Homo sapiens: one gene and its partners. The protein of the gene in region 1 interacts with the protein of each later gene in a pairwise test. Each region holds a gene or a part of one and is shown on either strand. Other genes may lie near its edges. The genes, in order: ZP3, SPACA3, CLDN11 and OR2L13.

Region 1 (9,014 bases):
GGCCAAGATAGCCGCCAGGAAGCAGTCAGGAAGTGCCCAGCTGTTAACACTTATCAGCTTCTGGCTGGGCGCTGTGGCTCACGCCCGTAATCCCAGCACTTTGGGAGGCTGAGGAGGGCAGATCATCTGAGGTCAGGAGTTTGAGACCAGCCTGACCAACATGGTGAAACCCCATCTCTACTTAAAAAAAAAAAATTAGCTGAGTGTGGTGGCACGTGCCTGTAATCCCAGCTACTCGGGAGACTGAGGCAGAAGAATCGCTTGAACCCGGGAGGCAGAGGTTGCAGTGAGCGGAGATCGTGCCATTGCATTCTAGCCTGGGCAACAAGAGCAAAACTCTCAAAAACAAAAACAAACAAAAAACACAACAACCCACATCAGCTTCTAACCTATTCAAGCCCATTTCACATAAGGTGGGGGAGACTGATTCAGAGGTTGCCTGAGGCAGGAAGAGCACAGGTGAGTACTACTGGGGAAATTTGCATCGTCCAATAGGGCTGCAGAAGGCAGGGCCTGCCTGGGAGAGAGTTTTATAGCAAACACCTAAGTTCGAAGATTTTGCTAGAATATTAGAAAAATGTGACGCTAGGCCCTACCCCAGTAGAGTGAAGGTATGAGATTCTCTTGAGAATCAGTATTTTTACAACCTTTCCAGGTGATTAGCATAGAGCCAGCACTGGAAACCCCTACTTTAGTCACTTCCTAACCACCTTTTGTTTTTTTGAGATGCAGTCTTGCTCTGTCACCCAGGCTGGAGTGCAGTGGCACGAACTCGGCTCACTGCAACCTCCGCCTCCCAGGTTCAAGCAATTCTCTGCTTCAGCCTCTGAGTAGCTGGAATTACAGGCACGTGCCACCGTGCCTTTTTTTTTTTTTTTTAAATAGAGACAGGGTTTCGCCATGTTAGCCAGGCTGGTCTCGAACTCCTGGCCTCAGGTGATCCACCTGCCTCAGCCTCCCAAAGTGCTGGATTACAGGTGTGAGCCACCATGACTCAACCCCCAACCACCTATTCTAAGCTCACTATCCCCACCTCTCATCTCAGGGAGCTTATTTAAAAACTACTTGAGGGCTGGGTGCAGTGGCTCATGCCTGTAATCCCAGCACTTTGGGAGGGAAGAGGATTGCTTGAGGCCAGGAAGTCACGACCAGCCTGGGCAATAGAGCTAGACCCCATCTCTACAAAAACATAACTTGGCTGGGCACGGTGGCATGTGCCTGTAGTCCATCCCAGCTATTCAGGAGGCTGAGGCAGGAGGATGGCTTGAGCCTAGGAGGTCGAAGTTGCCCAAGAGCTCAGGTGGCTGCCTGGCCCTGACCAAACTCGATCTTCAGGGAATAGTCCTAGACCTTATTAGCAAGTGCCCCAGCACAGACAGAACCAGCATAGCTCGTGGGGCCCCTTATTCAAAAGTTATTACCATTTCAGGGCAAGAGGGCATTCCATTAAGCACTGGGCCCCACAGAACTGCACAGGTTGTATACCTGGGAAACTGGCCATGGCTGTATTTTTTTTTTTTTTTTTTTTGAGACGGAGTCTCACTCTGTTGCCCAGGCTGGAGTGCAGTGGCACGATCTCAACTCACTGCAACCTACGCCTCCCGGGTTCAAGCAATTCTCTGCCTCAGACTCCTGAGTAGCTGGGATTACAGGTGCCCGCCACCACACCCGGCTAACTTCTTTGTATTTTTAGTAGAGATGAGGTTTCACCATCGTGGCCAGGCTGGTCTTGAACTCCTGACCTCGTGATTCACCCGCCTCGGCCTCCCAAAGTGCTGGGATTACAGGCGTGAGCCACTGCGCACGGCCAGCCGCAGGTGATTCTCACCGGGCAAAACTGGGAAACACCACACCAGAGGAAGGAGTTTGCAGGCTTTGCTCCTCATTGGAGTCACCTGAGATCCTTATTACCCACAGCTGGTCCCACATCCTTTCTATTTTAGCAGCCTGGACATCAGGATTTTTAGAAGCTCCACAGGTGGGGTTAATAAAAGAGGGTCTTGCTCTGCCTTCCAGGCTGGAATGCAGTGGCACAATCGTAGCTCACTGCAGCCTCCAAATCATGGGTTTAAGCAATCCTCCCACTTCAGCCTCCCAAGTAGCTGAGACTAAAGGCAGGCGCCACCACACCCTATTGTGTGTGTGTGTGTGTGTGTGTGTGTGTGTGTGGTGTTTGGTAGAGAAGGGGGTCTCATTATGTTGCCCAGGGTGGCCTTAAACTCCCGGGCCCAAGTGATCCTCCCATCTCAGCCTCCCAAAGTGCTGGGATTATAGGCGCCATTGCACTCCAGCCTGGGCAATAAGAGCAAAACTGTCTCAAAAAACAAAAACAACAACAAAAAAATACCACTTATCAGCTTCTAACCTATTAAAGCCCATTTCACAGAAGGGGGGGGAGCCAGGCACCTGGCTCCCCAAGTAAATCTAAGACATGTTTGTGAGCCTCTAAACTGGAATAATTCCTCAAGTAACTCCTGCAGCTCTCTGGCCTCCCTCCCCAGGAAAACAAGGGCCTCGAGTCCTCAAAGAGAGCCCAGGAGACCACAGTTAAGACCAGAGCTCTGGCCGGAGGGCTCCAGGGGCTGGACTTGCCCCCATCCCAGGCAAGCTACTGGGTCTAGGCCCAGGTGAGGAGGAGCCAGGTTCCCCTGAGGCGGGAGAGGACAGGCCCTCCATGGGACCACAGGAACTTGGTCCAGGGATCAGGGTTTAGCTGGGGAGCTGTGTGCCCAGCCCTGCCCTGCCGTAAGGCCTCTCCTTGCAGCCTCTTTCCCCACTGGCTAGGGAAAGGGAGGTCTGGCCTGGATTTCTTGGTCTTTTCCTGCATGTACCACAGGTTAAGCCTCTCCCCCTTGGAGCTGCCCCCAGGGACCCACTGATGCTTTTAAGGTCTTTAACACCAAGGTTATGATGCCCCCGCCCCCATACCACTTATCTATGTGGAATTTTTTTTTTTTTTTTGAGCCAGAGTCTCGCTCTGTTGCCTAGGCTGGAGTGCAGTGGCACAATCTCAGCTCACTGCAACCTTTGCCTCCTGGGTTCAAGCGATTCTCCTGCCTCAGCCTCCTGAGTAGCTGGGATTACAGACACGCACCACCATGCCTGGCTAATTTTTGTATTATTAGTAGAGATGGGGTTTCACCATGTTGGCCAGGCTGGTCTCAAACTCCTCAGCCTCCCAAAGTGCTGGAATTACAGGCGTGAGCCACCACACCAGGCCCCAGTTAGTTTTTTTAAAGGCTTAAGAGATGGGGTCTCACTATGTTGCCCAGGCTGGCCTCAAACTCCTGGCCTCAAGTGATCCTCCAGTCTTGGCCTCCCATAGTGCTGGGACTACAGGCATGAGCCACTGCACCCGGCCCACTTGTTGTTTTTAAGATAATGTATACTTTGGGTCTCTTCAGGATGAGTTCCTAATGCCCCCAGCCTTAGAAACAGCCCCTTAGGCTACCCACAGGGCTATCCTATCACGCAGGCCTGTGTGTGTCACAAACCCACCTGAGAGAGAGTGGCGTGGCTTGGGCCAGCCTGAAGTGCACGGCCACCTCTGGCTCCACCCCATCGACCCAATGTCGGGCATCAGAGGCAGGAGCTGCCCTGGGTCCGGTGACCTCAGTGCCAGCTTCAGGCCTCAACTGGGCCACCTCCCCACCTACAAGTGAGAGGGATCCACCCAACCCCACCTCCCACCGATGGTGGCCACAGTCCCCATACCCGGCTGCCTCGAACATCCTCCCACCAAAGCCAGGGCCCCCAGCCTCTCTTACCTGCATGCTGTTGCCACACTCGTGGAGTCCAACCTCAAACCTGACCACATCTTCTGTGTCCATGGAGACCAGAGGCTCACAGGCCTCTGGGCCCAAGGTGAGGTCAGCAGCCCTGATGAGCTTCCCGGTGCCAAAAAGGTCTTTGCTGACCATGACCATCAGAGTGGCCTCCTGACACTCCACCAGTACGGGCTGTACGGACGTCTCAGGATGGCTGGCTCCACCCTGCAAGAGCCAGAGGGGTTGGGGGTAGCACAGCTCAGTACTACCCCAGAGCAGGAGGCAGATGAAGAGCCTATAGCTCAGCTCCATGGTACCTGCAGAGCAGCAGGCAGCCGCCTCTGGCCATCTTATACCCGTGGGATGCTGGCTGCTGCCACCTGGGCTCTCAGCTTCTCAGCTGCCTCCCTTCCCTAGCCAGCTGGGCCCTTGTTGCATAAAGTGGTCTCCATCCAGAAGCATCAGTAACACCTGGGAGCTTGTTAGAACTGCAAACTCTCAGCCTTCACCCCAGCATGACCACAGCAGAATTTGGTTTTTAGCTTGGAAATCCCCCACGTGTATCCACATTAAAGTTTTTTTTTGCTGTGTGTGTGTGTGTTTGTGGTTTGTTTGTTTTTGTTGTGTTTTGTTTTGTTTTGAGACAGAGTCTCACTCTGTTGTCCAGGCTGGAGTGCAGTGGTATGATCTCGTTTCACTGCATCCTCCACTTCTCAGCCAGGTTCAAGTGATTCTCCTGCCTCAGACTCCCAAATAGCTGGGATTACAGGAAGGCATGCGCCACCGCGCCTGGCTAATTTTTGTATTTTTGGTAGAGACAGGGTTTCACTATGTTGGGCAGGCTGGTCTTGAAGTCCTGACCTCCAGTGATCCTCCTGCCTCAGCCTCCCAAAGTGCTGGGATGACAGGTGTGAGCCACCGCGCCCGCCCCAGCCCACTTGAAAGTTTTTAGCTTGTAAATCCCCATGTGTATTCATGTAAAAGTTTGCAAAGAGTGTGCTGCCTGCCTGGTGCACCACAATGTATCACAGCTTCCCTCCGATCCCCTGCTGGCCCTGCCCTTAGGAAGCTCGCAGCCCGGCAAGGGAGCTGTCCCAGGTCTGTGGGGGACACAGGAGAAAGCCCTTGATTGAAGAGTCAGGGGGATTAGATCTGAGACATAAGGAGCTCATTCCAAGTGTGAGAAAAAGGAGGCGGTATCAATTAGGAGACAGGAGGAATTTCATGGGTCTCTGCCTTATTTTATGGGAGGCCGGGGGGTAGGTCAGTTCAGGCAGAGGCAGCTGTGTGAAGAGAGGTGGAGAAGGGGCCCTGCGTTCTTCATTCCTGGGTGAATCCCCCGGAGTTCATACTGAGACACAGCAGAAGCGGGGCTTGGCTTCAGCTCACCCCGACCAGGGCATTCTTTTTTTTTTTTGAGACAATCTCACTCTGTTGCCCAGGCTGGAGTGTAGTGGTGCAATCTCAGCTCACTGCAGCCTCCGCCTCCCAGGTTCAAGCAATTCTTCTGCCTTACTCTCCCGAGTAACTGGGATTACAGGCTTGTTCCACCATGCCCAGCTCCTCACCACAAGGGATCCGCCCACCTCAGTCTCCCAAAGTGCTGGGATTACAGACATGAGCCACCACACCTGGCCCAACCACTGCATTCTTTCCTGCATTCCCAGTGATCACCAGACCCATACCACGATTTCACTGACATCATCATGTGGAAACATGCCTATTACTTAAGAGAATCCCAGGAACTGACCTTAGGAGATTCAAATATCAAACCAAGGTTGTGGAGTGTCCCACCTCAGGAAGGAATGCTGAACTGATTGACAGCCTTGTTGCCACCAGCCAGACTACCAGGTGGCCCATAACTCAAGATAACCATGGCAACCAGATAATGCCAACCTGCATACCTTCACGTGCTTTGCCCAGCACAGCCGGCATGCCCTATCCCTGATGTAAATTCCCATGCTTTGCCTAATAAAAAAGCCCTCCTGGCTCTTTTTGGAGAGTCAGATAGAAAAATCTCTATATCTTTCCCTCTCTCTCTCTCTTTCCCTCTCTCTCTCTCTTTCCCTCTCTCTCCCTCTCTCTTTCCCTCTCTCTCCCTCTCTCTCTCATGCTGCCTCCTTTATGTCTGGGCATAAGCTCCAATGAAGCTTTGTCTAGGAAAACTCGTTTAGCCTCCTGTCAATTTCTTTTCTTTCTTTCTTTCTTTCTTTCTTTCTTTCTTTCTTTCTTTCTTTCTTTCTTTCTTTCTCTCTCTCTCTCTCTCTCTTTCTTTCTTTTGAGACAGGATCTCATTCTGTCGCCCAGGCTGGAGTGCAGTGGTGCTATCTCGACTCACTGCAACCTCCGCCTCCTGGGTTCAAGTGATTCTCCACCTCAGCCTCCCGAGTAGCTGGGATTACAGGCACCCGTCACCATGCCCGGCTAACTTTTGTATTTTTAGTAAAGACGGGGTTTCACCATGTTGGCCAGGCTGGTCTCGAACTCTGGACCTCAAGTGATTCTCCCTCCTCGGCCTCCCAAAGTGCTGGGATTACAGGTGTGAGCCACTGTGCCTGGCCCTCATGTTAATTTCTTTTCTTTCTTTTTTTTTTTTTTGAGACGGAATCTTGCTCTGTCGCCCAGGCTGGAGTGCAGTGGCGCGATCTCAGCTCACTGCAACCTCCTCCTCCTGGATTCAAGCAATTCTCCTCCCTCAGCCTCCTGAGTAGCTGGGATTACAGGCGCCTGCCACCAAGCCCAGCTACTTTTTGTATTTTTAGTAAAGACAGGGTTCCACCATGTTGGTCAGGCTGGTCTGGAACTCCTGACCTCAGGTGATCCGCCTGCCTCAGCCTCCCAAAGTGCTGGGATTATAGGCGTGAGCCACCGCGCCTGGCCACCTCATGTCAATTTCTATTGCACTGAGGGCCTGAGGACCCATGGTTGGGGTAGGTAACCTGGTGAAGCCTCAGGTCCCTGGGAGTGAGAGTAGCAATTTAGGAGGCCGGGGAGGTGGGCGGGGCAGAACCCTGTGGGTGCCAGGCTGAGATGCTGGACTTAGCCCTGTGGGAAAAAGAGGCCATGAAAGGAATAGTATTGGCCGGGCGTAGTGGCTCATGTCTGTAATCCCAGCATTTTGGGAGGCCGAGGTGGGCGGATCACCTGAGGTCAGGAGATCGAGACCAGCCTAAGCCAATATGGAGAAACCCCGTCTCTACTAAAAATACAAAATTAGCCTGGTGTGGTGGCACATGCCTGTAATCCCAGCTACTTGGGAGGCTGAGGCGGGAGAATCGCTTGAACCCAGGAGGTGGAGGTTGTAGTGAGCCAAGATCACGCCGCTGTACTCCAGCCTGGGTAACAGAGCAACACTCTGTCTCAAAACAAAACAACAACAACAAAAGTCTACTGCAAGGGTCCTATCAGGAGATGATGAAGGACTGACAGGTACAGCATTTACCAATGGCCTACTCTATGCTGTCCCTGGGTGAAATTCCTGCAAGAGAGGAGGAAGAATACAAAAACTAATGGCATTAGCTGGGCATGGTGGCTCATGCCTGTAGTCCCAGCTACTCAGGAGGCTGAGGTGGGAGAATTGCTTAAACCTGGGAAGCAGATGTTGCAGTGAGCCGAGATTGCGCCACTGCACTCCAGCCTGGGCGAGACTCCATCTCAAAAAAAAAAAAAATTATACATATATATGTGTGTGTATATATATATAATTTTAAAAAATTAAAAATCTGCCAGGCATAATGGCTCACATCTGTAATCTCAGCACTTTGGGAGGCTAAGGTGGGAGGATTGCTTGAGCCCAGGAGTTCGAGACCAGCCTGGACAATACAGTGAGGCCCCATCTCTACAAAATCAAAGAAATTAGTCAGGCATGTTGGCACACACCTGTAGTCCTAGCTACTTGGGAAGCTGTAGTCCTAGCTACTTGGGAACCTAGCTACTTGGGTTGCTTGAGCCTGGGAGTTCTAAGCTTCAGTGAGTCATGATCATGCTACTGCATTCCAGCCTGGGCAATAGAGTGAGACCTCATCTCAAAAAAATGTGGAAATGGCGGGGCGCAGTGGCTCACGCCTGTCATCCCAGCACTTTGGGAGGCTGAGACGAGCAGATCACGAGGTCAGGAGTTTAAGACCAGCCTGGCCAATATGGTGAAACCCCATCTCTACTAAAAATACAAAAAATTAGCTGACGTGGTGGCACACGCCTATAATCCCAGCTACTCAGGAGGCTGAGGCAAGAGAATCACTTGAACCTGGGAGGTGGAGGTTGCAGTGAGCTGAGATTGTGCCACTGCTCTCCAGCTTGGGTGACAGACTGAGACTTAGTCTCACTAAAAAAAAAAAAAAGTGGAGACACACACACACACACACACACACGTGGAAATATATATGTATGTGTATATATATGTTATATATAGACATAAATATAAAGAGATACAGGGAGAGAGGGAGGATATGTATCAATCTTTATATTGGCTGAACCTGGGTAAAAGGTAAACAGGTTTCTTAGTGTTATCTGTGCAACTTTCATCAGTTTAATTTCAAAATAAAAAGTAAAACAAAAAATAACCAAAAACATAAAAAACTCTCTGTGTCAGATTCAAGTGAGACAGAAGACGATGCTGTTAACCAAGTTCCAAAAGCAATTGCTAAAACAAAATATGAAGTTCCTAGGTATAAAACAGACAAAAAAAGATATGTAAGATCTTTGAGGAAAAATTAACAAAACTGTATTGGCAGTCAGAGTAAAGAATGTCTAAATTTACAGAGGTATTCCATGTTCATGGATGGGAAATGCAATATCATCACTATTTCAATTCTCCCAAAATTAATCTGTAATTTCTATCAAGATCCCAACATGTTTTAGCTGTATGTGGGCAGAGCTTAGTAAACTGATTCTAAAATTTATATGGAAGAGCTAAGGATCAAAAAGCCAAGGTTTTTGCAGAAAAAGAACATCTGGTGTGAGTGTGGTGGCTCACACCTATAATCCCAGCACACGATTTTGGGAGGCCGAAGCAGGAGGATTTCTTGAGGCCAGGAGTTTGGGAACAGCTGGGCAACATAGTGAGACTTTATCTCTATGAAGAAGAAGGAGGAGGTGGAGGAGGAGGGAAGAAGAGGAAGAGGAATAGGAAGGGGAAGAGGAAGGGGAGGAGGGGGAGGAGGAAGAGAAAGAAGAGGCTGGGTGTGGTGGCTAATGCCTGTAATCCCAGCACTTTGGGAGGCCGAGGCAGGAGGATCACTTGAAGTC
Region 2 (8,509 bases), on another chromosome or scaffold:
CCTTCCCCATCCTGCTTCACACCACCCAGGCCAGAGACAGGAAGAAAACTAACCTATTGTAAGCTCCATATTACACGTTACGGATTATTTAGTCCTGAGGCCCAAGATTTTATAACTAGGAAGGGGCGAAGTTTGGATGGAGACAAAGTTCTATAAATCCAAAGCCCCACTGAGCAGATGCTCCCGGAGGGGATGGCCAGGCGGTGTGTTCATGGGTCTCTCAGCCCAACTGTCAAGGGACAGCCCTTCTGGCATTGACCCTCCATCTCCAGATCTTAACTGAAACAAGGTCTCCCCCAGAACACTGCTCCCCTATAGCCCGCTCAAGGGGAAGCTGCTCTTTCTCCACACACAAGACCCCAAGATGTCCCGAGAGTCTCCTCCACCCCCACCACCACTTCTAAACCATAACCTGCAAAAAGCCCTTCTCCCTGGAAGCCCAGCCTGCCCGTCTGGTTTGACCTCCCTGCCCTGTCATCATTGGCTGTGTGTGGCCAGTCCCCCAAATCACAGAGGACATTAGCACCTGGGTGTCACAGCATCAGGGCTCCTTCATCTCCCCAGACCTAGTCCCCTCCAGTTCCTCTGTGTCTCAGCCAGTCCCTCCCCTGCCCTGGTCATCCCTGCTTCTTGTCCTCACCCGCATTTCCCCACCTCTGTGAGCTCCTATCCCACTGCCCACCACCTCTGACAAGCCTTCCCATGCTTCTCTTGACCTCTGCGCCTCCACACCTGCTCTCCACCTTCACAGAGTCAAAAAGTGAAAGAGTTGTACAAACTCTTGTTTGTGCCAATTGGTGTCCCTGGTCTCCAACCTCCACGGGACCTTGAATGCCCCCGAGGATGACAAAGTGGTTGAGGTCATGGCTTTGCAGCAAGGTTCGGGTTGGAAGCCCCCCTCTGCTCCTTGCTCCATCTCTGATTTTGGGCCCTCCCTGAGGCTTGTTTCTTCCTCTATAAAATGAGGACGTGAGTAACACCTGCCTCATATGATTGTTGGAAGAATAAATGAGAAAAGGCGTGGGCACAGCGTAGCTCTTGGCACTAAAAATAAGTGAGTTGTTGTTTCTGTTATGAACTACAACTAACACTGGTACTCGCGCTTGTCTCTGCTCAGACTTCTCTCTCCCATTTCCCTCACAGGAAATGAAAACCCTCAGTATTGTCCTTTAGCACGCCACGCTGTCCCACCCCTTGGCTCTCAGAACATGATCTCGTCTCCTGCTGCACTAAGAAAAGCAAGGTGCTCACTTGTGGAATTTCTTCCTCTTTCTGCCTTAGCCCTGCTCACTTGCAAACTCATCAGTAGCCTCCTCGCCCTCATCTCCACCCCGTCATTGTTTGGGTACGGGGCCTCCAATCTCATGCAGGCCCATCTTCCCTCTAAGCTCTAGATTTGTCCTTCCCATCACCAAGCCTTGCTCCATCCGTTGTCCCTCCTCTCCCGGCGCGCTAGCACCGTTCCCCTCCTGCTCCTCCTTCCCCTGCTCGTAGAGACTTTCTCAGTCTCCATCTTCTAAATGCCTTCCCTCAAGTCTCATGCTGACTGCTACTCCCTTGTCTCTTTCCCCCTCTTCTCGCCCAAACTCCTGGGGAAAATCGCCACTTTCTCCCTCCCGCTTGTTTTCCAACCTGGTGAATTGGCCTCCCTGCCATCACCGCGCGCTGAAACTGCTCTGCGGGTCCAAGGAGGCCCCCTTCGACTCTGTCTCATGGGAGCTCTCAGCTGTACTCATGCCGTCCGCCACCCGCTGTTGAAAGGCTTGCCTCTCCTGGTTTCCACGATGCTCCCTTCTCCCAGGTTTCCTCCTCCCTCTCTGGCTGACTCTCCTCCTTATCCTCCGTGGAATTCACTTCTGCCCAGGCCATAAACGCTGATATGCTTTCTAAGGCCTTCCTGCCTTGAGCCCTCTTCTCTTCCACTTTGAGGAAACCCCCTGGGCAGCCCTGCTGTTAGCCACCGCCTGAAGGCTGGCAACCCCTGTGGCATCTTCCCCAAGACCTCAGAGGCAGCTACTGGCAGGACACTTCCACTTGAATGCCCTGCAGGCACCTCAAACCCAGCACATCTAAACAGAACCACTGTTTCCATCAATGCCTTCTTCTGCCTTGTGACTTTCCTTATGTGCTTTAAAACATGATGGGCCACACATTTACCCAAACTGGAAATATGAATGTCATTCTTCACTCCTTCCCCATGACATCTTTCACCCAGTTCCAACCAATCAGTCCCAATGTCCTGTGGATTCCACCTTCCCTCCGAGAGCACCGTCCTTTCCTAGGTTCACACCTCCATCCTGGCTTCCTTCATGGTCTTCTTGTATCATGTCTCAACCACTCTTCCAAGCTATTCTATACACATCCATCAGAACAAATTTGTTAAATGAAAAGCCCAGCCCTGTGACACCTTGGATGGCTCCCACCATAACTGCCCCTTCGAGGTCCACACGGCCCTTCACGACCCTTCACAGCCCAGCCCTGCGGCCCACTCCCTCATTCACACGTTATGTTTCAGCAGTGCCACCTTGTTCTCTCACAATGACCTTGCTTTCTAGAACATTCACCCTCTCCTTTCCTCTACATGGTTAACTCTGACTCATACTTGAAGGGTCTTATCAGAGGTGTGTTCCCCAGTGAGAGTCTCCTGGCATGCCACCACCCCCCACACTCTCACACACCCGATCTTCCACATCCTCTGTCACACGAGGCTGGAATAGATGTCAGTCTTTCCCACCACAAAGTTAACTTCTGAAGAACGGCGGCTGGTCTTATTTATCTGCATGTCTTATTTATCTGCAGAGTTGCTGGCATGGAGTAGCTGCTCTGTGGCTGCTTCTGAAACTCAAGTCCACAAAAGGCGTGGCCACAGGGACATGAGACCTTCTTCTCACCGCGAGGGGAGTGAGAAGGAGGAGGCAGCCAACCTGGTGGAGTTTGTCAAGTCTTTGAACACTGTGCCAGGCCTTTCCCAGAGCTTTTCCAACTTAATCTCATCCAATCCTCTCAGCAATTGAAAGGTGTGGGGTTAATATCCCTAAGTTGTAGAGGAGGAAACTAAATTGACTGCTACACATGGACTGTTTTTGATTTTTTTTTTTTTTTTTTTTTTGTAGAAAAGTGACTTAAAAGGAATTCCATCCTGAGCATTTCACAACAGCTCCAGAGTTTCTCTCTCTCTCTCTCTCTCCTCTCTCAGCTGGTCACTCTTCCAGGCCAGGATAACCCCACCCTAACCACCACCTTGTTTTTCTCCACCTGGTCTCTGGCCAGACCAACCCAGCGCCCCTGTTAACAGCCCCAGGAAGAAGGGAAAGGGGGCTCACTGATCAGGGGTGCTCCCCGCAGAGCTGAGACCATGGTGACAATGGCAGCAGCAGCAGTGGCTCAAAACCCTGCTTCAGCTCAAGATGTCCCCCACAACCTTGCCAGGGCCCCAGGCACCCAGTGTTAAGAGAACAATGGGGAAGGCAGGCTCCAGGCCAACGGAGGGCCTTCTAGAACTCCAGCTCTGTGAGCTCATCTTCCACAAACAGCGCCACCACAGAGCTTTGACTAGCCCACCTGAGCCCTTCCACTCAGGGTCCAGAGGCAGAGCAGGATATCTAATCCCAGCCCCCTTGCACATCTCTGCCCCACACACACACACACATACACACATGCGCGCGCGCACACACACACACACACACACACACACACACACACTACACTGAGGGATGACACTTCCTCTCCCAACAGATCTTTCAGATGATTATCCAGGGATAATGGTAGACACCTAGGGATGGTGATGGATGTACAGAGATGGTGATGGGTACCCAGGGATGTTAACAGGTGTGCAAGGACAGTGGTGCGTGTGCAAGGATGGTAGTGGGTGCCCAGAGATGGTGGTGTGTGTGCAGGGATGGTAGTGGGTGCACGGGGATGATGGTGGGTGCCCAGGGATGGTGATAGATGTGCAGGGATGGTGGTTGGTGCCCAGAAATAGTGGTGGATATGCAGGCATTGTGGTGGGTGCCCAGGGACAGTGGTGGGTGTGCAAGAACAGTGGTGGATGTGCAAGGATGGTAGTGGGTGCCCAGGGATGGTGGCAGATATGCAGTGATGGTGGTAGGTGCCCAGGCACAGTGGTGGGTGTGCAGGGACAGTAGTGGGTGCCCAGGGATGGCAGTGGGTGCCCCAGGATGGTGGTGGGTGTGCAGGGATGTTGGTGGGTGCCCAGGCACAGTGATGGGTGTGCATGGATGGAAGTGGGTGCCCAAGGATGGTAGCAGGTGCCCCAGGATGGTGGTGCATGTGCAGGGATGGTGGTGGGTGTTCAGAGACAGTGGTGGATGTGCAGGGATGGTAGTGTTGGGTGCCCAGGGATGGTGGTGGATGTTCAGGAATGGCGGTGGGTGCGCAGAGGCAGAGGTGAGTGTGTAGGATGGTGGTCAGTGTGCAGGTACGGTGGTAAGTGTGCAAGGATAGTGGTAGATTCCCAGAGATGGTGATGTGTGCCCAAGGATTGTGAGGGATGTGCAGGGATGGGGGTAGGTGCCCAGGGATGGTGGTGGGTTCCTAGGGATGGTGGTGGTTGCCCTCTGCTTTTCCAGGCTGCCCATCTCACCATGAAGCTCCTTTGAGTGCCAGAAAGTTCTTCCTTAATGCTGAGCCACAAGCCACTCCCTTCTCCACCTGGATGATGGCCATTCAGTGTGGACAGGTGCAGGGCAAAGGTTACCCTATTGACCCTAAAACTTAAAGGACAGAGAATTGGAAGGAAAGGGCATGTGGTGCCCACGTCTGTGTCCCACAGGAGCCTGAGTCCCACAGCACAGCAGCTAGAGCATAGGCTTTGGGGTCAGGCTGACCAGGGCTGAACACAGGCGCTAGTGACTTCCAGGTGGATGACCTAGAGAAAACAGCCTCACTTTCTGATTCCTTGATTCTCAAGCGGGGATGACAACACCAACCTCACAGGGTACTAGGAAGGCTCAATGAAACAGCAACAAAGTGCTTAGTACCCCAGGTGCTCAATAAATAATAGTAATTACTACTAAGTGCAGAGCACAGCCATAAAAGTGTCTGGTTGCACCATGTCCACCCTATCTGTCTGGGCCCCACCCCAGGACAACCAAGTTAAAATTGAGGGATGGCCCAGCATCAGCACCAGTATTTTTTTCTTTCATTTTTTTATTGAGGTAAGAACACTTAGTAGGAGATCTACCCTCTTAACATATATTTAATATGCAATCCATTATTGTTGACTGTAGAGGACACTGCTGTACAGCAGCTCTCTTGAGCTCATTCATCTTGCCTGACTGGATTTTCTTTTTTTTCTTTTTTTCTTTTCTTTTTTTTTTTTTGTTTTTTGTTTTTTGTTTTTTGAGATGGAGTTTCACTCTTTTGCCAGGGCTAGAGTGAAGTGGCATGATCTCGGCTCACTACAACCTCTGCCCCCTGCGTTCAAGCTATTCTCCTGCCTCAGCCTCCCAAGTAGCTGGGATTACAGGCATGCACCACCACGCCTGGCTAATCTTTGTATTTTTAGTAGAGACAGGGTTTCACCATGTTGGCCAGGCTGGTCTCGAACTCCTGACCTCAGGTGATCCACCTGCCTTGGCCTCCCAAAGTGCTGGGGTTACAGGCGTGAGCCACCACACCCAGCCACCTGACTGGATCTTTATGCTCATTGATTAGTAACTCCCTGTTTTCTCCTCCTGCCAGCCCCTGGTGACCACCATTCCTCTCTTTGATTCCATGAATTTGACTATTCTAGGTACCTGATAAAAGTAGAATTATTTCCTTTTCTGTAACTGGCATATTTCACTTTGCATATTGTCCTTAAATCTCATCCATATTGTTGCATATGTCAGAAATTTCTTCTTTTTTAAGCCTGAATAGTATTCCACTTTGTGTGTATACCACATTTTCTTTATCCATTCATCTGTGTGTGTTAGCTCATTTTGCATTGCCATAAAGGAACATCTGAGGCTGGGGAACTTAATAAAGAAAAGAAGTTTATTTGGCTCACAGTTCTGTAGGCTGTACAGGAAATATGGTGCCAGCATCTGCTGGGCTTCTGCGAGGCCTCAAGAAGGTTTTACTCATGGTGGAAGGTGAAGGGGGAGCAAGCATGTCACATGGCAGGAGAGGGAGCAAGAGAGATGGAAGGAGATGCCAGGTTCTTTTAAACAACCAGCTCTTGCATGAACTAATAGGATGAGAGCTCACTCATTGCCACAAGGCCAGCACAAAGCCATTTATGAGGGATCCACCACCATGACCCAAACACCTCCCAATAGGACCCACCTCCAACACTGGAGATCACATTTCAACATGAGATTTGGAGGAGACACATGTCCAAACCATATCACAGTGGATGGACACATGTTTCCACCTCTTGGCTTTTGTGAACAATGCTGCAATGAACATGTGATATTGTTTGGCTCTGTGTCCCCACCCAAATCTCAACTTGAATTGCAATCCCCATGTGTCAAAGGAGGAAGTTTTAATTCCCACGTGTCAAGGGAGGGAGGGGATTGGACCATGGGAGGGTTTCCCCCATGCTGGTTTCATGATAGTGAGTGAGTTCTCATGAGATCTAATGGTTTTCTAAGCATCTGACATTTCTACCGCTTGCACTTCTCTCATTTGCCACCTTGTAAAACGTGCCTGCTTCCCCTTCAGCCATGATTGTAAGTTTCCTGAGCCACCTCCACCAGCCATGTGGAACTGTGAGTTAATTAAATCTCTTTCCTTTATAAATTACCCAGTTTTGGGTATTTCTTTATAGCAGTGTGAAAATGGACTAATACAGTAAATTGGTACCAATGTAGTGGGGCACTGCTATAAAGATAACTTGAAAATGTGAAAGCAATTTTGGAACTGAGTAACAGGCAGAGGTTGGAACAGGTTGGAGGGCTCAGAAGAAGACAGGAAGATGTGGGAAAGTTTGGAACTTCCTAAAGATTTGTTGAATGGTTTTGGCCAAAATGCTGATAGTGATATGGACAATGAAGCCCAGGCTCAGGCGGTCACAGATAGAGATGAGGAGCTTATTGGGAACTGGAGCAAAGGTCACTATTGCTATGCTTTAGCAAAGAGACTGGTGCCATTTTGACCATGCCCTGGAGATCTGTGGAACTTTGAACTTGAGAGAGATGATTTAGGGTATCTGGCAGAAGAAATTTCTAAGCAGCAAAGCATTCAAGAAGTGACCTGGGTGCTCTCAAAAGCATTTAGTTATACGCATTCACAAAGACATGGTTTGGAATTTTAACTTATGTTTAAAAGGGAAGCAGAGCATAAAGGTTTGGAAAATTTGCAGCCTGACCACGTGGTAGAAAAGAAAAACCCAGTTTCTGAGGAAGAATTCAAATGAGCTGCAGAAATTTGCATAAGTAACCAGGAACCAAATGTTAGTAGCCAAGACAATGGGAAAAATGTCTCCAAGGCATGTTAGAGATCTTCAAGCCAGCTCCTCTCATCATAGGCCTGGAGTCCTAGGAGGAAAAAATAATTTTATGGGCAAGGCCCAGCACCCTGCTGCTTTGTGCAGCCTTGGCACTTGGTGCCCTGCATCCCAGCCACTCCAGCTCCAGCCAGAGCTAAAAGGGGCCATGGCTTCAGAGGGTACAAACTCCAAGCCTTGGTGGCTTCCACGTGGTGTTGGGCCTGCAGGTGCACAGAAGTCAAGAATTGAGGTTTGGAAACCTCCACTACATTTCAGAGGATGTATGAAAACACCTGGATGTGCAGGCAGAAACCTGCTGCAGGGGTGGAGCCCTCATGGAGAACCTCTGCTAGGGCAGTGTGGAAGGGAAATGTGGGGTTAGAGCCCCCACACAGAGTCCCCACTGGGGCACTGCCTAGTGGAGCTATGAGAAGAGGGTCACTGTTCTCCAGACCCCAGAATGGTAGATCCACTGAAAGCTTGCACTGTGCAACTAGAAAAGCCACAGACACTCAATGCCAGCTGGTGAAAGCAGCCGAGAGGGAGGCTCCACCCTGCAAAACCACAGGGGCAGAGCTGCCCAAGACCATGGGAACCCACCTCTTGCATCAGCATGACCTTGATGTGACACATAAAGTCAAAGGAGATTTTGGAGCTTTGAGATTTAATGACTGACCAGCTGGGTTTTGGACTTGCATAGGGCCTGTAGCCCATGTGTTTTGGCCAATTTCTCCCATTTGGAATGGAAACATTTACCCAATGCCTGTACCCCCATTGTATTTACTGTTTTAGCCCATTTTCACACTGCTATAAAGAAATACCTGAGACTGGGTAATTTATAAAAGAACAAGGTTTAATTGACTCACAGTTCCGCATGGCTGGGGAGGCCTCAGGAAACTTGCCACCATGGTGAAACGGGAAGTAGGCAAATCTTATATGGTGGCAGGCAAGAGAAGTGCAAGCAGGGGAAATGCCAGATGCTTAGAAAACCGTTAGATCTCATGAGAACTCTGACTGGGCACAGTGGCTCATGCTTGTAATCCCAGCACTTTGGGAGGCCAAGGCAGGTGGATTGCT
Region 3 (8,028 bases), on another chromosome or scaffold:
CAAAAATTAGCCAGGTGTGGCAGGTGCCTGTAATCCCAGCTACGCAGGAGGCTGAGGCACGAGGATTGCTTGAACCCATGTGGCAGAGTTTGCAGTGAGCTGAGATCATGCCACTGCACTCCAGCCTGGGCGACAGAGTGAGACTGTCTCAAAAAAAAAAAAAAAAAAGAAAAAGTCCTTTCAGTGGGAAGTGACAAAGCTTGAAAAAAGGTTCACTGGGGCCAGGCATGGTGGTTCACGCCTGTAATCTAGCACTTTGGAAGGCAGACGCGGGCAGATTGCTTGAGCCCAGGAGTTCGAAACCAGCCTGGCCAACATGGCAAAACCCCATCCCTACTAAAAATACAAAAGTTAGGCCAGCCTGGTGGTGTGCACCTGTGATTCCAGCTACTTGGGAGGCTGAGGATTGATGCTCGGGAGAATGAGTCTGCAGTGAGTCGAGATTGCACCACTGCCCTCCAGCCTGGGTGACAGATATCCTATCAAAAAAAAAAAAAAAAAGATTTATTGGAAGGAGGAAGAAATGTCAGTGTCTACTGATCTTGTCTTTCTCTGCCTCTTTGTCTGTCTGTCTGTCTCTCTTTCTCTCAGTTGTTACCTCCAACGTCAAACATACCTGTATTGATTTTATTTAACTTCATGTTTATTTAACTCCATGTGTTACCATGTGTCATCTCATCTTTAAAGAGATTAAAAGCCACACTTACATTTCATTGCTTTAAAATGGACTTCTCAAATATTTTCTGTTTGGTCACATCACCATCATTCTTAGTTTTTAACAAGGCATATCTTATCAATTAAAGAATGTATTGTGTTGCATTATTTGAAACTTGTTCTCAAAAGGGGCAAACAATTTTATTCTTTGAAGAGCAAGGAATTCTGCTTATGAGAGGACCAGGTTTAGATATATCTGTCTTTACATAGTGAAGCTTTCTTTTCCCTTCCCTTTCTCTCCCTTCTCTTCCCCCTTCTCCTCCTTCTCATTTTTAGCTAAGAATATACCTCAGTTTTACTTTCTGTTTTCCAACAACAAATGGTACCCCCCACCACCTTGTGTAGTTAGCTGTTGCATCTTCTGAAGGTAAAAAAGGAGAAAAACTGAAAAATCTGAGTGCTAAAATTACTCTGTCTTGTTTTTAGAGACTTAATTTAAAAATAAACTCTGATGATATAAAAAGAAAAAGAACAAAAATTCCCTTTGTCTGTCTTCAATTTTCTTGACCTTACAGGTAACTGACTTTCTAGAAAAACACTTTCTTTATTTTTCCCAAATAACAGAGAGAACCATTCCAAACTCATCTTTTTGGGTTTGCGAATAAAATTAAAACTATCAGGCCTTCTGTGTCTTTAAGAAAGGCAATTATTTTTGGCCAGTTATATTACTATTTCACATTTTTAAAAGTTAAGTAATGATTTGTCTTGAATTTTTAACTTTACTGGTCAAAACATATCTCTTTCTCTCTTGAAACCATTGCTGAAATTGAGTAAATTCTCCTTTTTTAGTTTTTAAACATTTCTCATTTTGGGTTCAATTGAAGGTCACTGTTTTCAGTGAGCCTCTCATTTCCTTTCATGTTGTGTGGCAGTCTGTCATTTTTTAGTGGTTTTGATGTGGTTCATCTTTGAGAGCCACAGGAATTCCACCCAGGGTTCATTTGTCTCCTAGGAAGTAAAGAGCCTGCTGGCACTCATTTGCCTTGTTTTGTGTGAATTGTAAGAGAAGGAAATCTTTAATGAGGTCAGTGATGAGCTTGCGACTTTAAGTGTGTTAAAGTCACAATAAGATTTTATGACTTTGGGTGTCAGTTTTGGTATGTATGAAGTAAAATGTAGAATTGAAATGAGACTACTTCTCATCTATCCATCCATTCGTTCCCCCGTTCACTCATCCATTCCTATGGAGGTTCATTGTATGAAATATTTAGACCTTTTTCTGATTTTTCCCTTTTTCTAATGATTTATATTGGAATAAAACCTAACAAAATCCCTAAAATACTCAAAACCAAGACTGATGGTTACTTTTGGGATATTGAGTCTGTTATTTCCCTGTGTGAAGATAATCTTGTTTTATGATTTGCTTAAGGGAACAATGAAATGAATTTAGAGGCAGTTTCTTGTCTTATTCTATAAAATCTCAGTGTGAAAGTTAGGTTAACAATAGATGTGGGGAATGCTTTCCTGCATGTGTGTGCACATGTGCTGTATGTGTAAATACAAAGTATAGTTGAAAAATATAAAACTTGATTTGAACCCTGAGTTGTTTTGAAACCAGTTAATTGTTTATAGGAAAGATCGGTTAGATTGAACCATATCAGTTGTTTGGGAATTAGAACTTTTTTCTCTACAGAATTCAGCTTTTCACTCCCCTTCTTTTTCCTCTAAACAAGCCTGGGTGTTTGGAAGCCTTTGCTAGGTTGCTGTTTTTTGCCCACAGCAGAACGAATGCCCACTTTTGAGGTTTAGGGCTGTGTAAGTAGATTGTGTATTGCTACGGAAAATCTACAGTAGTTCTCTCTGGCTGAAACACTCCAGAAGAGGATTTTAGTCCCTTTTGCTGACAGAGAAAAAGGTTTTTCTCTGTGTCTTGCTGAAAGTAGAGACTCTGATAATAGCCAAGCAATTCTCCAAGAGTGCCTGATTTGGAGTTCACGCCAGAGAAGAGAAAGAAAAAGACTTTCCCCTGCATCTGAGGTTTCCAAAGTCCTGAGCTAGAAAGGGAGGTTTCACGTACACACTGCTTTTCTTGAACATTCTAGTCACAGAAGGAAAATACATCTTCTCATGGTATCTCATATGAAAATATTACAGAAGCTGGCATGACTGTGCTTACTTTTTAAGAAAAAGGAAGCATTAGCATATGGATAGATTTTAGCTTCTTCTTTTTCTCTTTTTTTTTTTTTGACACAGAATCTTGCTTTGTTGCCCAGGCTGGAGTGCAGTGGCAAGATCTCCGCTCACTGCATGCAACCTCTGCCTTCTGGGTTCAAGCAATTCTCCCTGCCTCAGCCTCCTGAGTAGCTGGGATTACAGTCACCCACCATCCATGCCTGGCTAATTTTTGTATTTTTTTGTAGAGATGGGGTTTTGCCATGTTGGCCAGGCTGATCTTGAACTCCTGACCTCAGGTGATTCGCCCACCTTGGCCTCCCAAAGTGCTGGGATTAAAGGTGTGAGCCACCATGCCTGGCCAATTTTAGCTTCTTAGATAATCTATAAATAATTAATGGAGTGAATTTGGGCTGTTAGAAAGCCAATCTGGGCAATTCATAGCTTTTCAAATTAACTCTCTTCCTTCTGATTTCCTCTTGAGATCTATTCTTTTTAAGGATAGAAATCATATCTTCCTACATATATCTATACCCAGCTTGTGGGGGTGGGCTTAATCTATTGTCAATAAAAATCTATGTTACAAGCAACACAAATGCGATGAGATTGTTTAAAAGGTCTTTCAAAATGGGTAAGACCAATCTTTTTTCCATTTAGAACTAATATACAAGGCTGTTAGATTTGATTGCTTATGTTAAGTTATATTTCTTCTCTGTGGGCATAGAGAGTAAGTTAGAAAATCACTTACTATGAGTAGAAATCAGAAAAAAGCTTGCTGAGTTGAAAGTGATAACGGTACCCCTGGTGGCAAACATCAGACTGGCAGTGCAGTATCTGTCTTGAATTTGTTGATGGAAACCTCATTGTTATTATTATTGTTATTATTATTTTTCTGTCTGCCAACTTTAATGTGCCATCTCAACTTAAAGAGGTTTGGAGTTACTTTGTTTAGAGCTGTGTTGTTCGGTACAGTAGCCACTAGCTACATGTGGCCATTTAAATTAAAATTAATGAAAATTCAAAATTCAGTTCTTCATCTCACTAGCCTCATGGCAAATGATCAATGGTCCCACATAACTTGTGGCCACTCCATTTGACAGTGCTGGTCTAGAGATTTGAAAAAAGTAAAAAAAAGTCTTTATAGCCTCTTGCCTGCCCATGTTTTGTTACTTTGCTTATAAAGAGGTGAAAAACTACATGATATATAAGCTATTTCTTATTTTACTCTATAAAATCAAAACCAAAATGAAGATTAGATTGATTGGTGCAAGACCATAAGTAAAGTTCTACCATTTTGACCCTTGAATGGGTGAGTTTTTCTACTCCAAGGACTGTTCATTTGTGTGTTGGGATTTTGTGATTGTGAACAGTGTAATAAAAACTTGAACCTTTATCTGGTACTCCGTTTTCATCTAGCAACATTCACCACAGCAAGAGAAATTTCATACCTTCTCCAGATCTTTGTAATGTGAATTGACCAAACTGAGAAAATAGAGTGGAAAATTGAGGTGGCTGCCATCTTGTTTCTCATATTTGAATAGCTCAGATCATTCAGCCATTCAACTGGTCTACATTGAGCACATACTATTTGCCTTGTACCAAGGTAGACATAGGTAAGACATGGACCCTACCTTCAAAGAACTCAGAGCTTAGAATGATGCATAGACATGTAAAGGGGTAATTATAATACAATTAAGTAAGAATACTAATTTTAGAATTATAACTGTAGATATGAAGTGTTGATATACAAGTAAATACAAATAAATATTTTTTGGACTTAAATGGTTTATTTCTAGGTTTTTACACTGGAATTGTTTTGTCTCTGTTACCTGCTGAAAAAAATAAGGACCCAGCAGTCTACTTCTTCTACAGATGCCAACTGCTACATATTGGTTCAGTGTTGAGGGAGCAGAACTGTGTGTATGGAGCTTTTTGGAGCTGGTTGGAAGCCACAAGTGTGTGTATGTGGAGTGAGTGGGCCTGCCCAAGTGCTTGGTGTGTGATGGTTGCGCCCAGTCACCGCCTCTCCATGTCTCTCCAGCTCTCTGCGCCCTTGTTGCCACCATCTGGTTCCCTGTGTGCGCCCACCGTGAGACCACCATCGTGAGCTTTGGCTACTCCCTGTATGCAGGCTGGATTGGTGCTGTGCTGTGCCTCGTGGGTGGCTGTGTCATCCTCTGCTGCGCTGGAGATGCCCAGGCCTTTGGTGAAAACCGTTTCTACTACACTGCGGGCTCTAGCTCCCCGACTCATGCGAAGAGTGCCCACGTATAAGAGGGCTGCCCGGCTGCCCACAGAGGTGCTGTAGATGCTGGGCCCAGGGCCCTAGGTTTGCTCGTCACAGTGTGGGGAAGCCCATTCCTCTGCCAGGCTCTAAAGCCAAAGGTCTAGAAAAGCATCCTGTCTGGCATTTTGTAGTCTTAACTTCTCCCCATTTCCCCCATCTTTTGGTTGCCTTAAAAGAAATCTCTAGCTCAGATAATGCCCAGACATTTTTTTCCCTTGGTGTTGCCCCTATTAGCTCTTTTCTTGGGCATTCTTTTGCTGTTTATTAAAAATATATTATATATATTTTGTTTCTTTAAATTTCAAATGTTTTGCAAACATCACTGAGTTAGGTGGGGGTGGGGAAGAGAAATACAAGATACTTTTTTTTTTTTTTTTTTTTTTTTTTTTTTAAATAGGGCCTCACTCTGTTGCTCAGGCTGGAGTGCGGTGGTGTGATCTCGGCTCATGTAGCCTCAACCTCCCCGGCTCAAGTGATCCTCCTGCCTCAGCCTCCCAAGTAGCTGGGACTACAGGCGTTCACTACTACACCCAGCTAATTTTTAAGTTTTTTATAGAGATGAGGGCTCCCTATGTTGCCCAGGTTGGTCTCGAACTCCTGGACTCAAAGTATCCTCCCGCCTCGGCCTCCCAAAGTGTTGGGATTATAGGAGTGAGCCACCACACCGGCCAAGATGCTTTTCAAACTGATACAGATGACAATGGGAGCCTCATAAAGATGGCTTTTGTTTCTTCCCTTCAAGGTCATTTACTTGTACGAGACAGAAAAAGATAGCATTGGGGACATGGGATGGGGGAGGGAGGGCAATAGTGGAACGAACTTTCCATGGGAAACTTTCCCTTTTGTAAGTTGAGGGCCAGGGGTAGGGATATTTTTTAGTTTGTGATTTTACATTTATCTGTACATACTTTTTCAAGATTGATCATTTTTATAACCATGGTTTTCCTGAAATCCTCAATTCATCAATATGAAGGAAATGAACCACATAGACTTTATGCAATAAATAACAGTGCAAGTGAGTATAACTCTAACTGATGTTCCACAAAACATTTTTGATTTCAGGTTTGTATGATGTAGTTTTTAATCGTACATTTTCATATGCTTCAAACTAACACATTTTTAAAGCTTTCCCCCACTTTTCTCTCTATTTGTATTGTTAGCCATCTTGAAGTGATGTTGTTTAACATAAATTGTACTGTTGAATTTGGCTTTACGGGTGTAAACACTGATGGTATATCAGTATCTGAGACCCCAAACTCTCCAAATACTGATGGTGCATTTTATTCTTGAAGTGAAATCTGTGCAATAAAATAACAGACTGTCTGCAAAACTGGCCTTCAATCTTCTGTTGTATCCAGAGGTATCATTATTGATTTAAAAAAATCTCATTAATCTCTACTGGTAATTTATAGGGAATCTGATCAGTGATTCAAGAACAAGTAATTCTGCATTGCCTTGAATAATTAAAAAGTTATATTTTATTCACGGTATTGCAGTGGTAATTTGTGGTCATGAAAGCATAACCTCAGTGCTCTCTAGGTTTCTTAAGTGGGGTGACTTTATGGCATCTTTAATCATCGATCAATGGGCAGCAATCAGAAACAAAGTTCTCAGCATTATGCAGTTAATGTCCTTCATCTACTTCTAACACTTAGTAAAGGAATTGATTGGCTAGGTATAAAAAGAGAATTAACGAAACCTATTTTATTGGATCTTTAAGTAATAATATCTAAATACATTTCGTTCAAACATACATATGTAGCTGTTTGGACATTTTGGACAAAGACACATTGAGTTGATTTTTATTTGTTTTTCTGTTCCAGAAACTTCATCAAGTTACGGGCCTGGTCTAAGAAAACACATTGCAATCTATTTTGGCAGACTTCTTTCAAATAAAATACTAATTTCATTAGCTGATAGTATAGTAATTGGCAAACATTTCCTCTTTGGAAATACCAATTTGGGCTAGCCATTTTGCAGAAATTTGTGTAGTTTTGATTATAACCTGTTGGAGAGCATTTCTAAATTACTTATACATAAAAGATAATCTTTTTTTTGTTTGTTTTTTTGAGAAGAAGTCTCGGTCTGTTGCCCAGGCTGGAGAGCAGTGGTGCGATCTCGGCTCTCTGCAACCTCCGCCCCTTGGGTTCAAGCGATTCTTGTGCCTCAGCCTCCCAAGTAGCTGGGACTACAGGTATGTGCCACCACACCTGGCTAATTTTTGTATTTTTAGTGGAGACAGGGTTTTGCCATGTTGGCCGGGGTGGTCTGGAACTCCTGGCTTCAAGTGATCCTCCTGCATCAGCCTTCCGAAGTGTTGGAATTATAGGCGTGAGCCACCGTGCCTGGCCATAGAAGACAATTTTTATGTTAACTAAAATATTTGCTTAGCTATTATAATATAGCTTTTGTAAGGATAAAAGTCATGTGACTACATTGGAGGACTCTCCCTACCTCATTAAAAGTTGTCAAGGTATAACGATTATGAACCAGAAGGGAGCAAAAAGCGTTTGAGGGAGTGGACGAGGAGGCTTCAGACCCCATGATCCCTTTCCTCACAACCACCAGCTTGTGTCAGAAGTGTCATTAAGTGGGTCTCCTCTCTTATGGATGTATTGACTCGCCCGCTCCTTCCCTGAGCTGCTGCTTGTTTTCTCTCATAAGGGGGCTGCTGCATGAGCTCCACTTTTCCCTTCCGTGTAAGAAGAGAGACTCCCAAATCGCTCCTAGCTGACCATTCCCTGACTAATGAGGGAATCCCAATTTGGAGGTCATAACTCTAGTGTTAGGTTTAGTATCAGTTTGATGGAGGAGAGGTTGATGTGCCTCTAGAACAGTACTGTCCACTAGGAATACGATGTGAGCTGTTTAAAATTTTCCAGTAGCCACATTTCAAAAGCTAAAAATAAACAAGT
Region 4 (5,184 bases), on another chromosome or scaffold:
AAAACTGGCTTCTAAGTTGTGTTCTTCCCTTCCCAGCTCTCTGACCTAAGACATTTTTCTTGTTTGTTTGTTTTGCCTCACCAAGCCTCAAAGTGCTCACTCAACATGGAATAAATATCGGAATCATAGTGTTGTAGTGCAGGTTAAGTTATGTATGTGGGAAAAGCATTTACAATTAGTAAATATTTGTTAGCCTTATAATCCTAATTATTATAATTTTTAAAATATTCTATGAGCTTCAATTTAAAATAAGACAGACATAGATGTGAATAAGTGTTAATAAAATGTGATCATAAGCAGGAGTAGAAGTGTGGGGGAAAGAGATATCAGCTGTGCACAAGAAGAGATGGGATGTCAATTTTGAGTTATGTTTACTGATTATGTGGGATTCAGATTGATAGTCATAAGCTATGTAAATCAGAACTTTCCAGAAGTGAGACATGGTCTGTGATAAGGTTCAGATGGGCAAGGAAATAGAGGGCTATGGAGAAAGGCAGGAGGTCTAGAGTGACTGTGGTACTGAGTGTAAGTGATAGAAACAGGTAAAGGGAGACATAATGCATGCTTTAAAAGCATGGGGATATAAGTTTCATGTTCCAAAATTTAGATAATCCAACAGGAATCATAGATTATAGAATGACAAGATCAAATGTATGTTTAGGGAAATAACTCAAATGGCAATGAGTACACTATATTCTCAGTAAGAACTGGACTCAAGAGATGAAAACACTTAAGGCAGTAAGAAACTAGAAAAAGATATTGGGAGCTTGAATTTGGGCAGTAAATAAAAGGGATATATTAATACAAGTCTCAATTTTTTTTCCACAAAAATCAGAACCCCTCTATAACTCCAACTATTGATAGACTTGAAGTCACTTAAGTGAATTAGTAAAACAACCATAGTAAAACTTTTGTTAAACACAACTTTCCATATAGCAACATAGGATTTCATCCTGTGCAAAGTCATATACATATTTTACACATCAAAGCTGAAGCCTGAGGTCCCAGTTTCCGTTTTATATTTTGCATGCTGTCTCTACCCTGTCACTGTCTCTGTGCCTTTATATAAATAATTTCTTTAAGTACAACTTTGATAAAGTTATTTATATAAAGATTTTATTAATTTTTATGTATACATAAATGTGGGTTCTTTTATATTCATATTCAAGTTATTTTATCTCAGTATCTTTATGAAATCAGCAAAATCATAAGTCAGATAAGCTCTCCCTGAATAGTTTTATTAAAGGAGTTAGGATAAACTGGACTTCAAATGTTAATTACAATAAATGTGCATATGCTAAAAATGAGCCAACAGATAAAGAAACACATAAACACTACCTTAGCATGTGCATTTTACTTGTTAATTTTCAGTTCATCAGCAATATTGTATATAACAAAAATATGTTTGTATACACCATACATGCACATACACATGCATATATAACTTCTGAAACTATTGATTGGGGATGCTCTAAGAATGTGCTGTCCAACACTATAGACACTGACTACTGGGCACTTGAAATGTGTTTTGTCCAAGCTGCGCTGCACTCTATAAAACAAACACAAGACTTTGAAGACTTAGAATGCAAACAGAGTAAAAGGCAACATTAACAAATTTGTGTTATTACATGAAGAAATTCTATGTCAATATACAAGAATAAACATTATCACGTTAATAGTAATATATGTACAAACATGTACTATAATATATTGCATATAATTTATTGAAATAGTATGCTATGTAATTAACATCAATATTGTTAATATTAATATTAATTATAACATTGTTTTGAATTAAATATATTATTTAAATTTATTTGACTGCTTAAATGTACCTATTAGAAAATTTTAAATTATGTTGTATTTCTATTGGACAACCCTGCTCTAGCGTGTTGGAATCAACTTGGAAAGAGGAAATACAAAGGGAGTGGGGATGGCCATGATTATTCTTTCAGGAAAGAGAATATCCCAAACACTCTCCTCATAGCCCCCAGGACTTCCTTATTCCTCAGGCTGTAGATAATGGGATTGAGCATGGGGGTAAGGATGGTGTAGAAGACTGCCAGGATCTTGTCTTCAGCTGGTGAGCGGAGATTCCTGGGCCGAAGATAGGTGTAGACAAAAGGTGCATAGTAAAAGATCACTACAGTTAAATGTGTTGAAATGGTGGTGAAGGCCTTTTTTCTCCCCTCCTTTGAGTGCATATGATAGACAGCAAATAGGACTCGGCCACAGGAAGAAGTGATGCCAATGAAAGGGAAAAGGAGAAAGAGGCTTGTACTTACAAAAACCATATATTCATAGACCCAAGTATCTGTACAGGCAAGAAGCAACATGGCTGGGACATCGCAGAAGAAATGGTCAATAGCCCTAGACCTGCAGTAGGGAATATGAAGGGCAAAGACTGTGTGTGCCAAGGAGTTGATGGACCCCAGTGTCCAAGAGCCTCCAATCATCTTCACACACATCATTTTACTCATGCGGATAGGATAATAGAGAGAGTGGCAGATGGCCAAATAACGGTCGTAGGCCATGGAGGTCAGGAGTAAGCCTTCAGAACACGCCATGGTCAGGAAGAAGAAGCTTTGCACACCACATCCCAGGAAGGAGATGCCTTTCTGGCCGGACAGGAAGTTGTACGCCATCTTGGGGACGGTGGTGGAGATGTACATCAGGTCCATAAGGGAGAGCTGGCTGAGAAGAAAGTACATCGGTGTGTGGAGACGAGGATCCACGTGGATGAGGTGAATCATGGCCGAGTTACCCACCGAGGCCAGAAAGAATATGAGGATGATAAGGCACAAGAGAAATATTCCAGTTTGATTTGGGGGAAGCAGACCCAACAAAATGAAATCATTTGAAGTGTGATTCCATTTCTCCATGAAAACTTTCTGCTGTAACTGTTGAAAGAGAAATAGAAACAAAAGCAAAGCACAAAACATGAAATAAAACACAATAGAAAAACAAAAAGGAACTGACTTTATCAATGTTTGTTTAGAATGAGTTGTTTCTCCACTAACACTGCAGGTTTTTTTTAATCAATTTCTATATCTGAAGCATATGGAGATTAGAGAGGATATTCACTTTCTGTTCTTATAGTTTGATTTTCATTACTGTAGATGACAGCAGAGTCAAGCAGCTACAAATCTATTCAACTGGAAAAGCCAGTGTGAGCAGTAGAACAATTGTAATTTATGGCTTAAGCATGTCTTCCAATTTAATTAGATAGAACAACACAATTAAATGTTAATAATTGAGAATAAAGAAATCAAGCAAACAAAAATAAATAATTTTCCCTCCCTGGAAAGTTTGTCTAGCTTTTTATGCCTAGGCTTTTCCTTGGGAATTTTTATTTATGACTTTTAGAATCTCTCTTTTTCTCTTTACACCACCCCAAATCTGGCAGTTTGTTTTTTTCTTCATGCAGTTTCCCAGGTATTCGTAAACTATATTTCTAACATCTGTGTGACTTCTTCCTTTACCTGGGCTTGGAGTGAGAGGTCATGTTTTGTGTGTGCTCTTCTGTCTGAGGCAGACACTGATGTCTCATCCTGCCCAGCATATTGATTTGGTTAGTCATCTTGGGTTACTGATTTTTCAACTTTTGCTGTTCAAAAGCAAATCATAGTTTGTTGCAATTATTCACATTTAGGAACTTAAACTCAACTGTTAGTTCATATAACCTTGGGTAGCATGAATACAATTGTGAAAGAGAGCCTGCCACAGGAAAAAAAATGGAAATTCATTTCTATAGCTGTCTAAGGAATAAACACTAACAATGAAAAGTTGGGAACATGACAGGTGCACAGTAGCATTGGACTTGGATGCCAAATGGGATCACAGGCACTCTCTGCTTCTTATAGTGCTTTAGAAATAAAAACTGATCAGAAAAAAACATGAAAACCATCATTATGATACATTCATTTCCTCAAATAGTGTTCACTGAATTTATGTTTTATGACAGTGCTGCTAGCTACTGATGTGCTTTGGTGATGAAACACAAAGGATTTTAGAATATGTAATTAAAATTGAGATAATTATACAAACAATAGACCAACAAACTCAAACATACAGTGATGTTATGTAGTGATTACGATTCTATAGAAAAATAAAAAAGCAGAGAGATCATTGGATTAAACAAAGGAATTCAAAAAGTATTCCAAACGACTTTTCTAATTTCCAGGGTATGTATGATAAAGATTGATTTTGTAACTCATGTGGCTTCATTCTATCAGTAAGAACTATCCTAGTAATTTAGTTCCAAGCAAATATTTGATTAATTTTATCAGATTAACATGTTGACAGCCTTTGATGCAGTAGTCACTGAGTGAGGCAGTGGGGATAGAATGATTCATCAGGTGCTGTCCCATCCCCAAGTGGGCGACCAACTGTCCTGATGTGCCCAGGCCTTAGGGGATGCCCAACATGTCCTGGAAATTGGAAAAGCCTTTTGTAGTGCTTTCTGAATTCCTTTGTTTAATCCAGGTTTAAATCCAGGGGAAGAAAGCTGCCAGCATGATCCCATGAGGTGTATCCAATACCGAGCCCTGAACAAGCTGACTTGGGTGTAGGTTTATGTGTTCCATCCTGGAGTTGTTTTGAAGAGAGACATTTTGATTCTTTGTTGCATAGACTATAGCTCAGAGTATTATAAAGATTGTTTTATGGCAGTTACTACAATAATGATTTTGTTTCCAAAAATGGAAAAGTGGCATGTTGTTAGGCAATGGAAGAGAATAGTTACTTTTAGGATCCTGTGAATCTGGGACTTGGAGATTTTAGGTCATGGGATATTGGAGTTTGAGTTTAGGATCTATTTCCATTGATGTCCAGCAGCTTTCCTTGTTAGACATGGGACCTTATTTCATGCACCAGAATTACATGAAGCATCATTCTGTCGGTTACCTTATAGCTGGGAAAATGTTGTTCCTGTGGCTATCAGGTGAGTGTGAGATTAGTGACTGCCTTGGCCATCCTTGTTGACTTAAAGAACGACACTAAGGCAAAATTAATACAGAAAGTTTATTTGGGCCAAGGTTGAGGGCTGCAGCCCAGAAACACTTCTGTGGCAAGTAACCTGGAGAACAAGAAGAGACCCAAGTTTTTAAGGTAAAGAAAGGGAGGAATCAGGAGTGGAGACAAATTCTAAAGTTATTTATCAGCAAGTCTCACTGGTTTCAGAAA

Evidence for each region.
Region 2: the proteins of ZP3 (region 1) and SPACA3 interact in a two-hybrid assay, tested with the Homo sapiens proteins (one study listed by BioGRID and IntAct).
Region 3: the proteins of ZP3 (region 1) and CLDN11 interact in binary tests that used the Homo sapiens proteins (3 or more experiments, as listed by UniProt).
Region 4: the proteins of ZP3 (region 1) and OR2L13 interact in a two-hybrid assay, tested with the Homo sapiens proteins (one study listed by BioGRID).

What each region holds. Positions count from the first base shown.
Region 1 is NC_000007.14:76,420,030-76,429,043, reverse strand, and holds the start of ZP3 (zona pellucida sperm-binding protein 3 isoform 1 precursor), read right to left. Parts: upstream 4,095-9,014; 5' UTR 4,080-4,094; coding exon 3,768-4,079; intron 1-3,767. UniProt on the Homo sapiens protein: Component of the zona pellucida, an extracellular matrix surrounding oocytes which mediates sperm binding, induction of the acrosome reaction and prevents post-fertilization polyspermy.
Region 2 is NC_000017.11:32,986,787-32,995,295, reverse strand, and holds the start of SPACA3 (sperm acrosome membrane-associated protein 3), read right to left. Parts: upstream 3,450-8,509; 5' UTR 3,358-3,449; coding exon 3,324-3,357; intron 2,446-3,323; exon of another isoform or gene 2,291-2,445; intron 1-2,290. UniProt on the Homo sapiens protein: Sperm surface membrane protein that may be involved in sperm-egg plasma membrane adhesion and fusion during fertilization.
Region 3 is NC_000003.12:170,427,657-170,435,684, forward strand, and holds the end of CLDN11 (claudin-11), read left to right. Parts: intron 1-4,867; coding exon 4,868-5,100; 3' UTR 5,101-7,035; downstream 7,036-8,028. UniProt on the Homo sapiens protein: Plays a major role in tight junction-specific obliteration of the intercellular space, through calcium-independent cell-adhesion activity.
Region 4 is NC_000001.11:248,097,074-248,102,257, reverse strand, and holds the end of OR2L13 (olfactory receptor 2L13), read right to left. Parts: intron 3,608-5,184; 5' UTR 3,483-3,607; intron 2,901-3,482; 5' UTR 2,883-2,900; coding exon 1,944-2,882; 3' UTR 1,095-1,943; downstream 1-1,094. UniProt on the Homo sapiens protein: Odorant receptor.